Linked DNA regions of Homo sapiens. The protein of the gene in region 1 purifies or fractionates together with the protein of each later gene. This does not show direct contact. Each region holds a gene or a part of one and is shown on either strand. Other genes may lie near its edges.

Region 1 (3,748 bases):
AGAGGAAGGGGACTTCCAAATACTAAATGGATCGTGATTTTAAGCAAATAATCAAATGCACAAAAAATGCCAGATCACTTTAGATAATGAATCCAAACCAAGGACTCCTACTGTCAAATTCGTCTCACAAAATGACACGCTTTCTTCTCATAATAAAGGTCAGGGAATTCTACAGGGCCACGAGGGACTATCACAAAAACATTTCCAGCAACTCAAAATACCCATCAAGACTTTGTACTTTGCATACGTTAATCAGGTTTTTAAAAAACAAACAAACAAGGATGTAGCTGTCACACTTAAAAGAATTTCCTTTAACATAAAAATTTCCAGTAGCCAAAAATGGGCGAGGCCAATAAACCGCTGGTCTAAATTACCTTACACATACTGTACTTCATATGCACCAGAAGACGCATCTGAGCCGAAGCCCACCGCACTGCGGCCCCTGGAATTCAGCGGGCGGCCCGCGCCAGGGCACCGAGCAGGAAGCACTGCACCCGCGCCGCAGTCCCCGGGCCAAGCCGGAGGGGCTGCGGGGAGCAGTCACCACTGCTTTGAAACTGAATGGCTGACACATCCGGTCCTGGCTCTTACACCACTCCGCCAAATGCAAACTTCAAAGGCCAAATTCAAACTCCAAACAGAAGTCACTCAAGTGACTTAGCAGTGCAGTTCGCATTCCCAGGAACACTCAAAGCCCCTTGGGGGCTGCAATTAGACAAACCGCACTTCCTAAAAGACTGCAAGCCTCCGCGAGTGTGCAGCCTCCCGCCGCACGGCTTTGACAGGCGTTACCGAGCCGTCCTCCTGGAGCCCTGCGGCCGGCGCTGGGGGCGCGCCGCCTGCGTCCGGGCCCAGCCCGCGGTATCTGCCTAGGGACTCGAGTCCCGGGCGGGCCGAGGGGCTCTGCCTGTCACGGCCGCTGGGACCTGCTACTTTCTCTTCGGTCCTCTCAGTCTCCCACCCGACCTCGGGCTTCTCACCCACCCCGCCCCTCTTCCGACCACCGCCCGCCTCAGGCTCGGGCCTCGCCCCCCAGTGCCTTTGCCCCGGGGACACCCGTCCGGGGGCGCCGCCGCAGGGCCGTGCCCCGCCCCCGGGCTCCTCGGAGAGCCCCGATTCCAGGAGTCCCACAAAGCCAGCCGTGGCCCCCTACACCTTTTCGCAACGGTTCCCCGCAGAGAGGCTCGCACGCCTGTCACATGTCTGCAAACAATAACAAACTCTTCCGCACGTCCCCGTCCGGTCCCCCAGGCTGGGTCCGGGGCGCCGCCCGACTCCGAAGGGGTCGGGGGGTGCTCAGGGGCGTAGGTCCCGGCGAGCGGCGCGTAGCCTCGCTGCGCTGAACCCCGGGACGCCGTGCATGGTGCCCGGGGTTCATTCATTGCCCTCTGCCCGCTCTCCAAGTCCCCGCCGCGACCCCGGCCGTGCTGCTCACCCGGCGGGGGCCGCTGCAGGAGACGGCTCGGCGGCGGGCGCCCGCTTCTCCCCGGGCTCGGCCGCTGCGGGACTCGAGGCGCCGCTGTCCGGCGCCGCCACCGACTCGGTAAGGTGGGCGCCGCCGCGGCTCGCGGCTCCGTGGGGCGGCGGCACCGCCACAGGCTGGAAGCCGGTCCCACTCCCCGCTGCGTCCGCGGGCTCCGGCGACGGGGAAGTCGAGGAGGCCGGCGGTGAGGCGGCAAGGAAGAGCGGCTGCTCAGGCAGCTGGTCCAGCTCCACACTCCGCACTTTGCGCAGCTGCCGCCGCCGCCAGTCCGCCCGCTCGCGGCCCCCGCTGCCCGCCTCCCGCAGCAGTCCCGCGGCAGCCGCGGGCGCGCTGCTCGCCTTGAGGGCTCCTCCGCCGCCGCCTGCCTCAGGGCTCGTAGCCCTGGCGCCCGGGAATCCCGACGACGAGGCGCGATTCCCCGCCGCCGCCGCCATTTTCTCTCGCGGGCTACATTCGCTCGGCCCCTGCGAGGGAGGGAGGGGGCGGGGAGAGCGCAGGGGGCGGGCACTGCGCCGCCAGCGTAAGGCCTCCTGCGCCAACTGCGTGAGCGCGGCCCGCCGGGCGCCTGGCCTGGACTGACCGACGGGCGGGCGCACTGGGTCCGGCCTGCGGCAGAGGTGTGGGTGGAGGGCGGCCCGGCGGCCGCAGGTGGGAGGGAGTGGGCTGTGCTCTCCGCCGGGCGAGAGGGCGGGCGGGCGAGGTGGACTGGGAGGCGGAGGGGGCGGGGGCGGAGGCGGAGGCGTGGGCTCCCGGGACTCTGCGCGCTGCACGCGCCGCGCCGCCAGGTAGTCCCGGCCGCACCGGCGACAGGAGGAGCCTTGGCGGCAGCGCTGCGCCGCTTCCTCTCGGCAATCTCGGCCCGGCACCGCGGAGCTCGCGGGAGGGGAGTTGCACCTTCCGAAAGAAAGAATTAGTTCCAACTTGGGTTTCTGGTGCTTGAAGGGGACGCAGGCGAGAGGGTTTACAGTCTGTCATTCCCACTGCCCTTTGCAGTGGGCGTCGGGGGACCCGGGCGTGGACCAGCCTCCCACCGACGCGCAGGTGGCGCCCGGGACCGTCGCCTGCTGCAAAGCGAAAGCAAGTCAACGTTCAGCAGACAGGCTGCCGCGGACCAGAAAAATAAAGTTTTGTTTGTGTTTTCTTTTGAAAAGAAAACATTCCTTCTCTATTGTCCCACCCCTGTCCCTGTGCTACAGATAACAAAACTTCAAAGTTTTCTGTAATACCTTACATCCTGAAGCTGCTGATTTGGGACAACTACCCCCTACCCTCACCAAGTCCCCACAGCCTCTGAGAAACCGTTGGGGCGAGGAAGGGAGGCGGGTGTCCCCGTCGATCTTTAGTTTTTCCTTGGCTGTCTTTGGGAAAGGCAGTCCCGTACAGAACCACATATAGCGCGTTTGGGGAGGGGACCAGCGCTGTGCCAGGAAGTGCTCGGTAATGTCACCCTCGGCCAGGTCCCGGCCCTCCCCGAATCCGATGCTTCTCGCCGCACGTCCTTCTTCCCTGCAGGGTCGGGCCACCGGCCGGGTTCCCTCTGTCCCCACTCCTGCAGGGCCTGGCTGCCCATCGCTGCGTTGTGAGTCCTCCTAGTCCCTGGACTCTACGTGAGAAGGTGCTTTGGGATGGAAAAAGCAACATTTACACGTTAATGATTTTTGACCTTTTGTCAACTGAGGAGAACTTCTGTGTTGCGTTTATTTCTTCCTTCCTTTCCTTTCCTCCAGCTGGTTTGTTTAGGATGGGGAATCTCCCAAAACCCAGGAGGAACGTCTATAGATTTACTTTGTGAAACATGATTAAGGAGGGGGGAGGTTGGGGTGGGGGGGTGCGGATTCTCACGGAGATAGTCTTGTCAGTCTTCACATATTTAGACAAAAGCCTGAACTATTTACAGAATAATTCCATTGACTTCTGGAGACTAGGTAAAATGAAAGCCCCTTTCCCAGATACAATGTTAACTGCGTAACCAGGTTAGATCAGAGGGGTTTTAAAAAGTCCAGATTTCATATTAGCTCAATGATTTGAAAACTGCTGTAACATCTCCCATAAGATAGTTTTAGATCGTTACACCCAACGGTACAAATTTTGAAAGTTCAGATAAATCTGTTAAAAATTAAGTCTACATTTAGGCTATAATTATATGCTATTTTAATGGCAGTCAAATGTATCATTCAAACCAAACAGTGGTTATTTCTCAGGTCTTCCTGGGTTGCCACACCCACCAAATCCTAAACTGAAACGGATAAACTTTCCTTGTTCCTA
Region 2 (3,748 bases), on another chromosome or scaffold:
AAGTAATGACAAATGCAAAAGTATCACAAATAAGAACAGAACCAAAATTCAACCCCAGCGGCAGCAGGACATCCGGTGTGGGTTAACGCCCGCCTCATCAGCACCTTTCCCTGGCTTGTTCTCCAGCTCTCGGAGGTGAGTACAGAAAGTGGACGCCTGGCGTCGGACTCACCTGAACTCTCTGCCTTCGCTGTACCGTCTACTGGAGGAGACCCTCGGGGCAGCTGTCTCCAGGAGCAGCTTCTGAGGGAGTCTTCCGGGGGGAGCAGCGTCTCTGCCATCGTCCTCATCCATGTCCTGGTCACACTTCCATTCCTCATCTTCATTTAAGGTCGGCAGGTATCCAGATATGCCCTTCCCTGTCCCTGACCCAGAGCTCTGGTCACTACAGACTTTGGGGCTCTCCGAGCCTGTCCTCGTATATTCCAAATAAATATCAGACTTAAGGAAGGAGGGATAGGTGTTTTCCTCCATAGTGGCCTGGATTTCGGTCTGGGCCTGGTCAAACATGGCAGGATCGATCAGCTGCTTCATGATGCAGCCCTTTATGAAGCTCTTGGTGGCTGGCTTGGTCTGCCGGGACACGATGCCATTGTTATCAAGAATGTACTTTCGGTAGATGGCTCTCGCCAGCTTCAGCCTCTTCTCCTCGTTCGAGTCACAGGGCTCCAGCTTCCTGAAGCCAGTGCAGGCAAACCAGAAGTCCAGCAAGTCGGCACAGCCCTCCTGCTTCAGGAAAGTCCTGAACAGGCTTATCCCATCTTGGTCATCCAGCAGGGAATGCAGTGACTCAGCCCACTTCAAGTATGGTGGGGTGGGGGAGGCACTGCCCTCAGGCTCATACCCCAGGTCCAGATCCGAGCGCCTCGGAGTGGCCGTCGAAGTCTCACCTTTAATGCCAACACCTTTCCCGGAGCAGAAACTGTAGCTGGCGGGCCTCGGGTCTGTGGACACCAGTTCTCCCTCCTCACCAGGCACTGGGGGTCGGGGAGCATCTTCGGTGAAACTTGCTCCGAGGTCCAAGGGGAAACCCTGCTCTTGGATATTCATTTTGGGACTCTGCGTCAAGGAACAATGAGCGCTGCACCCTAATACATCAGTACTTACAGCTCCAAAGTGAATCAATCTGTCCTGTTGAAACCATTAAGAGGACAAGGATTAGGAAAGGTGGGTCCATGAAACACGACCAGAGGTTTTCTCAAGACAAGACTCACGATGACGCCCTCCCGCTCAAACTCAAAGCAAGAAACTCAGTTTAAATGTTCAATCAAGATATATTTTGGCCACAAGCATAGTTCTACTTTAAAGCAATTTCTGGAAACTTTTACAACTACAGGAATGCCTCTCATGCTAAGAAGGGATGCCCAGGACATGGGAATGCCACTCCCCACAAGTCTCACTGCACAAACATCACGGAGGCTGGCAGCTTGAGCACCTCCCACCTCAGCTGCAGAGCTGAGGGACAGGGAAGGCAGGAAGACCGGAGGAAGGAAAGCTGCCTCTAGTCCTGACTATGTGTACAAACCTGAGTGAGGGCTGGACCCTCACAAGTAAGATGGAGACAATCGCTCCACCAGCCCCAGCAACACTCAGAGAGAAAGGAAGGTGCGCTACAGCCCCGAAGGTGGTGGGCGTCTTCTGAACCCCACGTCCTCCAGGCCCACGGCCACTGTTTTCTACCTGCTGCATCACGTCACGCGTGGTACACCTTCCGACACATGAGAACACACTGCAGGGTGTTCCTCCGACTCTCAACACACGCCTCAAAGAGAGATAATCATGGGTCACCTTCAGCCCCATCGACCGAGGGATCAAGGACACCACCCAGGCCCACAGAGGCGCTCGGACACCGTCACTGGAGACAATCTTAAAATGCTCTGTCAGAATGCTGCACTTGACTCTGAAAAGCCTCTCTGATGAGGATTCAGATAGCAAATAGTAAATGGGTACTTCAAGGAACAGAGAAGGTACAGAATAAAAGGAAATGCAAATACAATTTTTAGCTAAGGAAGCTATAGTTCATGTGACTTCACTCCTTAAGCTGAAAACCAAACCACCCACCCTCTTAGACATCAGGGAACTATAGAATTTGCTGCTACTACTGCTGCTGCTGCTACAAGCCTGCAAGGGGTGTGCAAAAGAGAGTAGATAAGGGCTCCAACAGAACCCCTGCCATGGTCTATGGTCCTTCCTGCCACGTCCTACAGGAGCCCAGGAGCTCTGGCTATGCCTGTCAACCCGGCCATGCAGGTGACTGAAACAACAGCCTGCCATGATGTAAGTGGTCCTGGCTAAAAGGGGCTGGAGAGAGGGCTTTAGAGAAGCATGTTGGGTTCAAAAGCCTAGAGTGCTGAACAAGTCACAGCAAACAAATAAAACCCTAAAACCCAGGACCAACTGAAGGGGGATCTATCCCCCAGCCACCACTCCACACTGCTGTCCCTTGTCTATGTGGAATCTGTCCCCCACACCAACTTCCTCACATTGCACACACTTTACCAGCCAACAGCTGCTCACGGCTGGAAGCACGAAGGATCCACAGAGCCAGGCGTGGTGTCACGCACCTGTAGTCCCAGCTACTCAGGAGGCTGAGGCTGGAGGATCCCTTGAGCCCAAGAGTTCAAGACTAACCTGGGCAACATAGTGAGACCCAATCTCTACCAAAAAACAGTTCTTAATTAGCCGGGTATGGTAGCGTATGCCTGTAGTCTCAGCTACTTGGAAGACTGAGGCAAGAGGATCACTTGACCCAGGAGTTCAAGGCTGCAGTGAGCTATAATCGCACCCCACTGCACTCCAGCCTGGGCAACAGAGCAAGATCCTGTCTCTAAAAAAAAAATAGGCCGGGCACAGTGGCTCACACCTGTAATCCCAGCACTTTGGGAAGCCAAGGCGGGCGGATCACGAGGTCAAGAGATCGAGACCATCCTGGCTAACACGGTGAAACCCCATCTCTACTAAAAATACAAAAAATTAGCCAGGCATGGTGGTGGGCACCTGCAGTCCCAGCTACTCGGGAGACTGACGTGGGAGAATGGCATGAACCCGGGAGGCAGAGCTTGCAGTGAGCCGACACCGCGCCGGCCACTGCACTCCAGCTTGGGCGACAGAGTGAGACTCTGTCTCAAAAAAATAAAATAAAATAAAATAAAATAAAATTAGTAAATAAATAAGAAGCACCCATAGATGGAGGATGGTTTGCAACTATGTGCCCCCAATGACATTTCAGCAGCTAAGGACTTTTTGTGAACGCTGCTGGGTAGTATGTCATCTTGGCCTCAGCAGGAACACACAGCTTCTAAAGGTCAAGGCCCAGTGAGCTGTGACATCCTGCTGCTCACAGACCACTTCAGCGGCAGTCACTCCGTGAGCCACATCAGCATGGAGGGAGCACCCTGGGCGTGGGCACCTCCACACTAGCTCACGGTCATCTGTCTGGGACGCCATCACAGGAAAGAAGGCCTGCACCCTGACCACCTGAGCCTTACCACTATAGATGTACTACCATTCACTAGCTTGAAGAACCAAGTCACCGGAGAGTGGAAAGTGATTAATCAGACAGTGCTCAGAAGGGAGGCTAACCACAAGTCACCATCATGCTCTCATAAGGGACTTAAGTCTTCTGTGTTAATTATTGGTAGTAGCGGGACCCACAGCACCCAGCACAAGGTCCTGCAACTAACGGGCACCAGTAAGTCATTCACTGATGTAAAAAAGAAAAGACATTTGTCACAGACGCCAAACACTG

The links.
Region 2: the proteins of MAP3K1 (region 1) and AXIN1 purify together in Homo sapiens (affinity purification with western blotting; 5 studies listed by BioGRID and IntAct, with this or other methods). This does not show direct contact.

Annotation. Positions count from the first base shown.
Region 1 is NC_000005.10:56,813,743-56,817,490, reverse strand, and holds the start of MAP3K1 (mitogen-activated protein kinase kinase kinase 1), read right to left. Parts: upstream 1,943-3,748; 5' UTR 1,918-1,942; coding exon 1,436-1,917; intron 564-1,435; exon of another isoform or gene 375-563; intron 1-374. UniProt on the Homo sapiens protein: Component of a protein kinase signal transduction cascade. Activates the ERK and JNK kinase pathways by phosphorylation of MAP2K1 and MAP2K4. May phosphorylate the MAPK8/JNK1 kinase.
Region 2 is NC_000016.10:345,976-349,723, forward strand, and holds part of AXIN1 (axin-1), read right to left. Parts: intron 1,132-3,748; coding exon of another isoform or gene 1,051-1,131; coding exon 173-1,050; intron 1-172. UniProt on the Homo sapiens protein: Component of the beta-catenin destruction complex required for regulating CTNNB1 levels through phosphorylation and ubiquitination, and modulating Wnt-signaling.